Regions from separate parts of the Homo sapiens genome. Here region 2 is linked to region 1. The links come from fine-mapping of genetic effects on gene expression. Tissue or cell type: whole blood. Region 1 holds a variant in brackets; the other region holds the start of a gene. All regions are shown on one strand. Distances are between the middles of the regions.

The links. PIP is the estimated chance that this variant, and not a neighbour inherited with it, causes the effect.
Region 2: it holds the start of AKR1E2, and the variant in region 1 is fine-mapped to the expression of AKR1E2 in whole blood (INTERVAL, PIP 0.91).

What each region holds. Positions count from the first base shown.
Region 1 is chr10:4,874,751-4,879,904 of GRCh38, forward strand. It overlaps the pseudogene AKR1C6P. Among named protein-coding and RNA genes, the nearest start is that of AKR1E2, 51 kb to the left of the region's middle. The variant G/A (reference allele first, on the strand shown) is at 2,903.
Region 2 is chr10:4,823,668-4,828,821 of GRCh38, forward strand. It overlaps AKR1E2 (aldo-keto reductase family 1 member E2), which reads left to right and starts at 2,540. Exons shown (of 10, transcript NM_001040177.3): 1 at 2,540-2,696. The coding sequence starts at 2,658. RefSeq lists a silencer at 2,967-3,046.

The sequences.
Region 1 (5,154 bases):
GACAACAAAGATAAAACGGTTTTGCCAGTGGTTGAGTAGGAGTTTCAGAAAGCACAGTGAAAACATGTTGAGGTGGTGTACACAGAGCTATTTGGGAACCAGGAATTTTAGGCTCCTGTAGTGACTGAACTAACAGTGACAAAGACCATGTTAGCCTCAAGGGAGTTAAGGGGCTGGTTGGCAGGGGAGGATGGGAGTCTGTCCAGGAGCTACTGGATTGCTTGCTCTTCCCGTGTTTGGAGATGTTTACATACATATATGTACTAAATGTCACTGAACAGAAAAAAAAATAGCTTACAGATTTTTCTCTACAGCCTTCTGAGAATCATAGAGTCTAAAAGTTTGAAGGGCCATTAAAAGTCTATCTTTGGAAATAACTTTTTTCCTGCCATTGGATTTTCATTATCACCTCCATTTGCTTGATACTCAGCCTGTTCCCTTTTTCCTTCTTGATTTTCCGAACCTGCTTACTCTTTACTATTGAAAACCCCCCCAGACCTGAGCAAAGTTCTGAACATTGTTCAGAAACCACAGCTGAAGATCCACCCCTGTGGCCAGCCTTGCAAGAGAGCTGATTCAGGTTCAAAACCTGAATCAGAGGGGGTGGGCTTTGTGATGGAAATTAGAGAAACATGAGAAATGTTGAAATTTAGAATCAACATGAGAAATGTTGAAATATAGAATCAACAGGACTAGGTGGTTATTTAGATGTAGGGGATGAGGTTTGTGCCATAATGGTGATGTGTGTAGTATTACCATGAAGAGTATATATAGAGAAAACATTGAAGGCTTTAATTTTAAGTGTATTAAGTTTGAACTGTGGGAATAAATAGAACTATCTCTAGGGAATTTTAATTTAAAAGAAAATCAGTGGGCTACAAGAGACCAAGAAAAATGTCTAGGTTAGAGATAGAAACCATGGAATTATTAGCATGTAGATTGGAGGGAAGCCTAGTGATGAGGGACACACAGAGGCAGTGTGGAGCCAGGAGAGCCCAGTCTTAAACGGGGAGCTTCCGTCTCTATTGAGTTCTGCTCACACTCTTGTCTGGGCAGAGCTATGAGCCTTGGAGAAAAAAAAATGTCTGATATGAAGTCTGAAGAAAAAATGTTTTCCAACAACTTTCCTAAGCAACAAACCCTGCCTTCTGTGGGCTGAAATCAATGGAATTCCCCCACTGTCCTGCTCCCTAGTGTCAACAACGAAACAAGCTACTTACATAGACATTTACAAATGGCATATATTCTTGTTCAAGCCATCTGTGGTTTTCATGTCCTCTGGTGTCAGCTAGAAGTCAAAAACCTGTCAGAAACGTGAGAAGATCAATTTAATATCCTTGAGGCAATTGCTGTTCCTCTTCTCCCCTCTCCACAAACAGACAAATCCATGTAGGACTTTGTGTAGGTTTTATGAGTGAGTTTTCATGGACCAAGGATTCATTCAGTGGCATGTCATGGGAATTTGTCCATTTATAAAGTTGAGATTGGCATGGTTAATCTTCCCTCAGATACTTTTATTGGGGAGCCATCATGATAGCAAAGAAATCCTAGAGAATTTTAAGCCCAAACCTCACGTGATCTAATTCCTTTATTTTACAGCTATAGAAATCAAGGGATGACTTACCCAGCGCCATACTATAGGGGAAAAACCCGGATTAGGACCCTCTCCTGACCTTCTCTTTAGTGTCCTTTCCAACCATCACACTCTCCCTTGCAGCAAGGGGAGACAAAGCAATTAAATATGGTGCTTATATGCTTATATGCATAGAATGTAAAAGGAGATAAGCTTTGCCCAAATATACCTTGAGAGCTTTGCAAAAACTCAGATACCGTGGGGAAATGATGTGCCTCTGTCAATCCCCTGCTGCCACCACCATGCCCTGTACCTGGAAGTTTTCTTTGATTCTCTTCTCATTGAAGCTCTTCACCAGGACCACCACCCCGCGCTGCAGCTGGTAGCACAAGGCAACCTGGGCTGGAGTTCGCCTGGGCTTTTCAGCAATGGCATTGAGTATTGGATCCTCCTGGAGAACTGGGTTTCCTTTTTTCACCCTGAGAGGAGAGGCAGAGGTGCTGCAAGTCTGAGGCTGAATATCCATTTTACTTGCGGGCTGCTTATTTTGGCCAGGGATGCTAATCCTCCAGAACCTTCCTCATTACCTTCTGGCTGTCTCAATATCTGTTTTGCATCTTTTGTTATAACCAAAGAAGGACAAAGGAATGGAAGGTGGCAGTTCTATTTAGTTCTTATAATGTAGGTCTGGGTTAGGTAAAAGGTTTACAGATGAATTTATTCCTGCTGTCTATTTTTAATTTTGCCAGCTGATTGAGAGATTACTTCGGAAGGTACAGTATCTATGATTAAAATAACTTTATAGGCCAGTCACCGTGGCTTACACCTCTAATCCCAGCACTTTGGGAGGCCAAGGTGGGAGGATCACTTGAGCCCAGGAATTCAAGACTGGCTTGGGTAACGTAGTGAGACCCTGTCTCTACAAAAATGAAAATAAACAATTAGCCAGGCATGGTGGTGCACTCCTGTAGTCCCAGCTACTTAGGAGGTCTAGGAGGGAAGATCCTGACTTGAGCCTGGAAGGTCAAGCCTGCAACAAGCTGTGATTGTGCCCCTGCACTCCAGCCTGGATGACAGAATGAGACCCCCACCTAAAAAAAATAAACAAAATAACTTTATGAAGATGATTACCAGTCTTTGTCTGAGTCAGACCCCAAGGCAGAATATGCAGTCATGACAATGTCCTTGGACTTACAGTACTCCAGGAGTTTGCTTTGGTTGAGGTAAGGGTGATATTCCACCTGCAGAATGCCAAGCAGGAGAATTAGGTTACAGAACCACCAACACCAAGCTTACCAGGGACATGCAGTGCTGCATTGCATGGTATCA[G/A]ACATCTTTTAGAATACCAGCAACACAGGCCAAGCCATGATTGTCATCCACAGCTGTATGCATGAAGCTCCCAAGGGCTTTACTTGGGATGACAGCCCATGGAGGGCATAGCAGTATTGATTAAATAATTAACTCAGTGCTCTTAGATGGCAGGTTGTGCACAAGGCCAAAAGAGAATTTCAGTCTTCCAGACTGAAAACCATGGTGACATCTTTGGTTCTTGCTCATTTATTGTTGACGTATAGCAAGCAGCAATTTCTGCCTTTCTTAGTTATTTAATCTCAGTATTCTTTATTTTTAAGGAGTATTCCCATTTTGTTCATTGCTGCAACCCCTGATAGCCAATAAATCATCCCTCAACATTTTTTGGCTTTATGAATGTATAATTGTTATATGAAAACATGCACACACTTAATGGATACATCTGGATGGATTTGGGCATGTGCATATACCTGTGATACCATCACTGCAAACGATGCATTAAACATGCCCATCACCTCCAAACATTTTCTTATGTCCTTTTGTGTGTGGTTTTGGTTTTAGTTTTTGGATTTTTTTTTTTTTGCAAGAACACTTGACATGAGATCAACTATCTTAAACATATTTTAAAGTATGCATACTGTTAATAACAGGTATAAGGGGTTAATATCTAAACTATGTAAAAATCTACAATGCAATAGCAAAAAAACAAACAAATAACCCAGTTGAAAAATGGGGGAAAAAAAACTTGCATAAGCATTTCTCCAAAGAAGTCATCACTCCAATTTGAAACAGTTTTTCATCAGGTTATTCCTTGGCTGCAGGAATGAGAATGTTTTCCTCTTTCCTAGCACAGGACATTGTGACATCTTTGTTTGCTCCTTACCTCCCCCAACAAATGGCCCCACTCAGACTTATGGTGCCCATACACTTCCCGAAGCTCCAATCTTGTCCCATGGGGAAAGGGATTTGGAAAGGCTTCTGGCCCTTTTATCATCAAGGGGAAATAAATTGCTACTTGTTTTCAGTCAGAAAAAAAGTTACTGGTGTTATTACATTTACACATTACTAGTGAGAGAGGTTTCTGTGCTGCAGAAGGTATTTAGTGGCACTATAATCCCACGTTTCCATTTTTCTCACTTCCATGCACATGGAAAGTCAGAAACCAGGATCCATCACTGAATTTTAACCATTTTTTTCTGCTCCCTTGTCTGGGTGACATGTGAGCCAAGACCATTGCCTTCACCATGGGATGGGTAGTCTAGGGACCAGCTCAGCACTAGACAAAAGGGGCAAGTGTACTTTAAAAAATACAATTAGCAGACAATTTTTAGAGCAGTTTTAAGTTAAGAGAAACATTGATAGGAAAGCACAGAGTTCACCATATCACCTCTCCCACCCACCCTTACCCCTACTCTCTCCTCTTATTTAAGTTGTATTAGTGTGAAACATTTGCTACAATTGATGAACCAATATTGATACATTATCACAGGGTTCACTCTCCATTGTACATTCTATGGGTTTTGACAAATGTATGTCATGTGTATTAGTCAGGGTTCTCTAGAGGGACAGAACTCATAGGATAGATGTATATGTAAGGGGAACTTATTAAGGAGCATTGACTCACACGATCACAAGGTGAAGTCCCACAATAGGCCGTCTGCAAGCTGAGAAGCAAGGAAGCCAGTCTGAGTCCCAAAAACTCAAAAGTAGGGAAGCCGATAGTGCAGCCTTCAGTCTGTGGCCGAAGGCCTGAGAACCCCTGACAACCCACTGGTATAGGTCCAAGAGTCCCAAAGCTGAAGAACCTGGAGTCTGATGTTTGACACCAGGAAGCATCCAGCACATGAGAAGGATGGAGGCCAGAAGACTCAGCACATTCTAGTCCTTCCATTTTTCTCTGCCTGCTTTTGTTCTGGGCATGCTGGCAGCTGATTAGATGGTGCCCACTCAGATTGAGGGGGGGTCTGCCTTTCCCAGTCCATTGACTCAAGTGTTAATCTCCCTTGGCAACACCCTCACAGACACACCCAGAAACAATACTTTGCATCCTATAATCCAGTCAGGTTGACACTCAATATTAACCATTGCAATATGTATCCACCACTACTAGATCATACAATATGGTTTCACTGCCCTAAAACCTCTGTATTTTACCTATTCATTCCTCCTTCCCTCTCCCTGAGTCCCTGGAATCCACTGATCTTTTATTTTGAGCAGTTTTAGGTTTACAGAAAAAAATGAGAAAAAAAATGCAGAGTTCTCATATATAC
Region 2 (5,154 bases), 51 kb before region 1:
AATATTGAAGGAAAAGAACAAAGTTAGAGGACTCACACTACCTGACCTCAAGACTTACAATAAATCTACTGCAGTAATCAAGACAGTGTGGTATTTATGAAACAGGCAAATGGATCAATGGAACAAAATAGCACAGAAATAGATCACCACAAATATAATAAGCTGATGTTTGACAAAGGAGCAAAGGCAATACACTGGAGAACTTTCAGTCTTTTCAACAAATGATGTTGGACATCCACATGCAAAAAAATAAATCCAGACACAGATCTCACACTCTTCATTAAAATTAACTCAAAGTGGATCGAAGGCCTAAATGTAAAACACAACACTATGAAACTTCTAGAAAATAAGAGAAAATCTAGATGATCTTGGGTTTAGTGATTTTTTTTATTTTTATTTTTTATATTGATTACTGTGTTCCAGGATATTCTAATTTACTAATTTTTATTTTAATTTTTTTCTGTCTAGTCTCTGATTTTTTAATTTTAATTTTTATTTCAATTGTTTTGGGGCGACAAGTAGTGTTTGGTTGCATGGAAAAGTTATTTAGTGGTGATTTCTGATATTCTGGTGCACCCATCACCAGAGTAGTGTACATTGTGCCCAATGTGTAGTCTTTTATCTCTCACTCCCCTCCCAGCCTTCCCCCTGAGTCCCCGAAGTCCATTATATAATTCTTATGTCTTTGCAATGACTTTTAAAATACAACATCAAAGGGATGAGCCATGAAAGAAATAATTGATAAGCTCACTTCGTTAAAATAAAAATTTTTTTATTTTGCTAAAGACAATGTCAAGGAAATGAAAAGACAAGTTACAGACAGACTGGGAGAAAATATTTACAAAGACACATCTAATAAAGGACTCTTATCCAAAATACACAAAGAACTCTTAAAATCCAACAATAAGAAAATGAATGACCCAAATAAAAAATGGGCAAAAGACCTGAAAACACACCTTATCAAAGATATACAGATAGCAAAGAAGCAGAGTAAAAGATGCTCAACGTCATAGACTTATGGAATTTCTGTTAAAACAATGAAATAGCATGATACACGATTGCAGTGCAGTAGAGCTTCCCCCAGGAATACTGTTCCCAGACTTGTGCAGGGCTGGTTCCCTCACTCTTTGCCTTTCTGTTTGCAGCATAAATGCCACTTCATTGAGGTGTTGAGGATTCCCTCACTCTGTCCCTTCCGCCTCTCACCACAAGCACCTGCTTTATTTTACTATAGCACCTGCTCTTTTTTTTTCTCATGCATTTGCTTTTATGCTCTGTCCATTCATTCCTACAGATGGTGAGCTCCTGAGGGCAAGGCCCATGCAGGTCATTTTCAGCACTGCACCCTGGCCTAACTTGCCCCGTGCACAGGTGAGTGCTCCAGGCACAGTTTCTGAATGAATAAATGAGAGTATCGAAGATCCCCCTTCCCACCTGTGAGGAGCTCACATTGAGGAGATGGATGCTCACAGGAGATGCAAGTTGGGTGGGAGGCAGGGGGACACCCAGAGTGACCCTGGGAGTTTCTCTGGCTGCAGCCGCCCCATTGAGCAGAATGGGCAGCGCCTCCCCTGATGGCCAGCACTGAAGACCCAGGCAAGGAACCTAGAAACAAAGCCCTCATCTGGGTGTGGGTGTCCTCAAGGCAGTAGGACTCCCAGGGCTGAGGGGGGCAATGAAGGGGGAGCTGTAAGCTCCAGGAGAGATAAGAGGGGCGTCGGAAGGCTCCCTTGACCCCTCTTTCCCTCCACTGGCCCTGGGGGAGCCCAGTCCACTCATAAGGGGGGTGTCCAGTCCACCCCATCCACTTCCAAACGGGGGCCCGAGGCTGCAAGCAAGGACGCTCCCCTCTACATGCAGGGCTCGGCCTCCCCTGCACCACCCAGGACCCCCGCTGTCCTGCAAGCCCCAGCCGCTCTGGGCCAGGACCCAGGGAGTGGAAGGCATTTTCCAAGGGCACAGTGGCTCCCTGACGGGGAACCAAGGCCAGGCACGCTTCTCCCAGACTGGGGGCCTCGGGGCACCTGAGAATGGCCATCCTTGGTACAAGAGAGCGGGGACCCACTCCCGCGCACCCTGTGCCCCAGGGGACGCAGGACTCTGCACCCTGACCCTAGAGCTTGCCCTAGGATGGCCCGGCCATGGCGAGGCCCTGGAACGGTGAAGACTCTCTGCCCATCAACCTAGCACCTCTGCCCTACCCTCAGTCGCATATGCACCCGGTGCGAGGGAGAAGGCAACCAGGAGGTCACACCTAAGGTGGGGGCGTGAGCGGCAATGCCAGCCGATTGTAAAACCTTCCCTGCTCCTGCGTGGCTCTGCAAGCCAATCGAAAATTCCGTCGTCTATGCCGCCAGCCAATCAGGATGTCCAGAGCGCGGTGCTTCCAGCCATTTGGGACTCCAGCTGGCTCTGCGCCTCCAGCCAATCGGGGTGCCCGTCCTTAATACAACCAGCCAGTCAGTGCCCGGCGCGCGACACCAGCAGCCAGTCAGGAAGCCCTGCGTTCATGCTTCCAGCCATTGTCGGAGTGTCAGCCGTCACAAGGCACTTCCAGCCAGTCGCAACGGCGGGTCGCCAGCGCCGCAGTAGCTCGCGCGGTGCCTGTCGGTAGTCGCGTGCGGGGCGGCGGGGCGGCGGGGCGGCCGGCGGCGGCCATGGGAGATATCCCAGCCGTGGGCCTCAGCTCCTGGAAGGTGACGCGGTCGCGGGCAGGGAGGCGCGCCTGACCTAGGGGAGCGCGGGACTTGGGGGCGCCCGATGGGACCCAGGCCGGGGCTGGGGAGAAGTGCGGCGGCCTCCCCTCCGCCTGGCCGACGCCCGGGAAAGGCGCTGCTGAGGTGGCCGCCCACCGCCCACAAGCAGCCCGGCCCGGCCTTTCCTAAAACGGAGTCGGTGCTGCCCGCCGAGGCGCTCTCTGGGAGAAGCGGGAACCTCGGCAGCCAAGCCTCAGACTCTGGGGCTGCGGCCGCGGCGTTGGGCGGGGCTGCTCTGTGGAGAGGCGGAGCCCTTGAAGTTACTCAGAACTGGAGCGGGGATGCCGAGGGGAGGCCTTGGCGGCGCTGGACTCGGCCGGAACAGGGAACCTCGAAGCCTCCTCTCCAGCAAAGAGAGAAAGAAAAGTTGGGGCCGGGCGTGGGGTGCGGGCTTGTAATCCCAGCACTTTGGGAGGCCGAGGCAGTAGGATCGCCTGAGCTCAGGAGTTCAAGACCAGCCAGGTCAACATGGCGAAACCCTGTTTCTACAAAAAATGAACAAATCAGCTGGGCTTGGGGGTGCGCGCCTGTGGTCCCAGCTACTCAGGAGGCTGAGGTGGGAGGATCACTGGAGACCAGGAAGTCGATGCTGCAGTGAGCTTTGATGGCGCCACTGCACTCCAGCCTTGGGGACAGAGCCAGACCTTGCTGGAAAAAAAAAAAAAAAAAAGAAAAAAGGAAAATTGGAATTGCTGATTAGGCTTTAAAAGAAACTTTGGGATCTCATGTTGTTCCCTGTTTAGAAGCAACCTGCCCTGATGCCTGAGACATATAATCGCTCTGTGCATTTATGGGGTGCAGCGTAATGTTTTGAGCCGTGTATACAATTGCAATGTGGTTAAATCAAGCTAATTAACATATCTATCACCTCTCTCAGTTATTATTGTTTGTGGTAAGATGTTTGAAATGTCTTGTTATTTTGAAATACACATGTGTAGTAAATTATTGTTGACTGTTGGCATCCTAGTGCGCAGTAAGTCTTAAAAGCTGTGTCTCCTGTGTGTTTGAAACTTTGTACCCTTTGATCAGCAACTCCCCATTCCCTCCTTCCTCACCTCCCCCAGCCCCCAGCGTCTTATAACCACCATTCTATTCTACGACCTTTCTCTGCTTTGAACTTCACAATTCCTGCCAGTGATTTGAGACAGCACTGACTAAAAAGCGTTTAAAATTTGATCTTTAAAAAAAAAAAGCTAAACTTAGTTGTTGATAAAAGCTATAAGAAGTCATATAGGAAGTTAGTTACTGAAGGAGTCAGAATGTTCAAGGCCTGCTCATGAAAATATTATTTAAATTATTTCTCTTACCTGCTTACCAACTCTTAGAGGCTAGGAGTGTCGTTTTGTTCATATTGGTTCTCAGCATCTAGTGAAGGACGTGCATCTGTCAGCCCTTCATTCAGTAAGCACTCGATGGATTAAACTGTTGAGTCTCTTGCTTCCCTTTATTTCTGCAACAATTTGGTGCAGGAGTCCAGACTTTCGTGCACACAGGATAAGGAAAAATTAGTGAAAACTGTGCTTAACAGGTCAAAATATTCTATTTATTTTTCTTGGACTGCAGGTGCATCAAATTGGATTAATCATAATCACTCATCACTGGTCTATGCAAAGGCTTATTTTTACTCGTCTATTTTTAATAGTGAATAAACATCACAGACCTATCCGTTATCTGTTGCCCCAGAAATGCTGCATCAATGGCCAAACACCAGACCTCAGTGGTGTACAGCAGCAAGTGTATTCCTCCCACACGGGAGGTCAGGAGAGCAGCTCTGTGGACCTTGGCTGGGCTCAGTTGGGATGGTTGGGGCTACTCCACTTGGCTCCGCACATCTCCTGTCCTCGTGCGGTTAGTTAGGGAGTGTTCTCAAGATGATGGCTGAAGCACAAGAGAGCAAGGGGAGCGGTGAGATGTCTGGAGACCTCAGCCTGGGCTCTTCATTATTAGGGGCCACTTGATCCATCTGTGTGCCTGATCGGTGCTGTCTTAATTACTACAGTTCCTTGATAAGCGCCCATACCTAGTAGGGCAGGTCACCTCTCCCTGCTGTTGTAGATTTACAGTGTACAATTTGATGAGTTTTGACAGATGCATGTACCTGGGTCCTGGCTTTTTATTTTGGCACCTTACTCTCCACTGTAAGTTTTAGAACTAGCTTAGAAGGTTCCATGAGAAACTTTATTGGGGTTTTGATTGGAACTACATTAAATCTGTAGACCAGCTTGGAGATAATTGACACCTTTGTAATGTTAAATCTTAACTTTTCTACAAGCATGGTATTCTTCTCTGTTAATAAATTGTCCTGAATATGGTTCATTTCTAACATCTTTTCATATGGTTGTATAGTTTTTCCTGAAGAGAATATATGTCTTTTGTTGGAATTATTATTGGGTTCTTG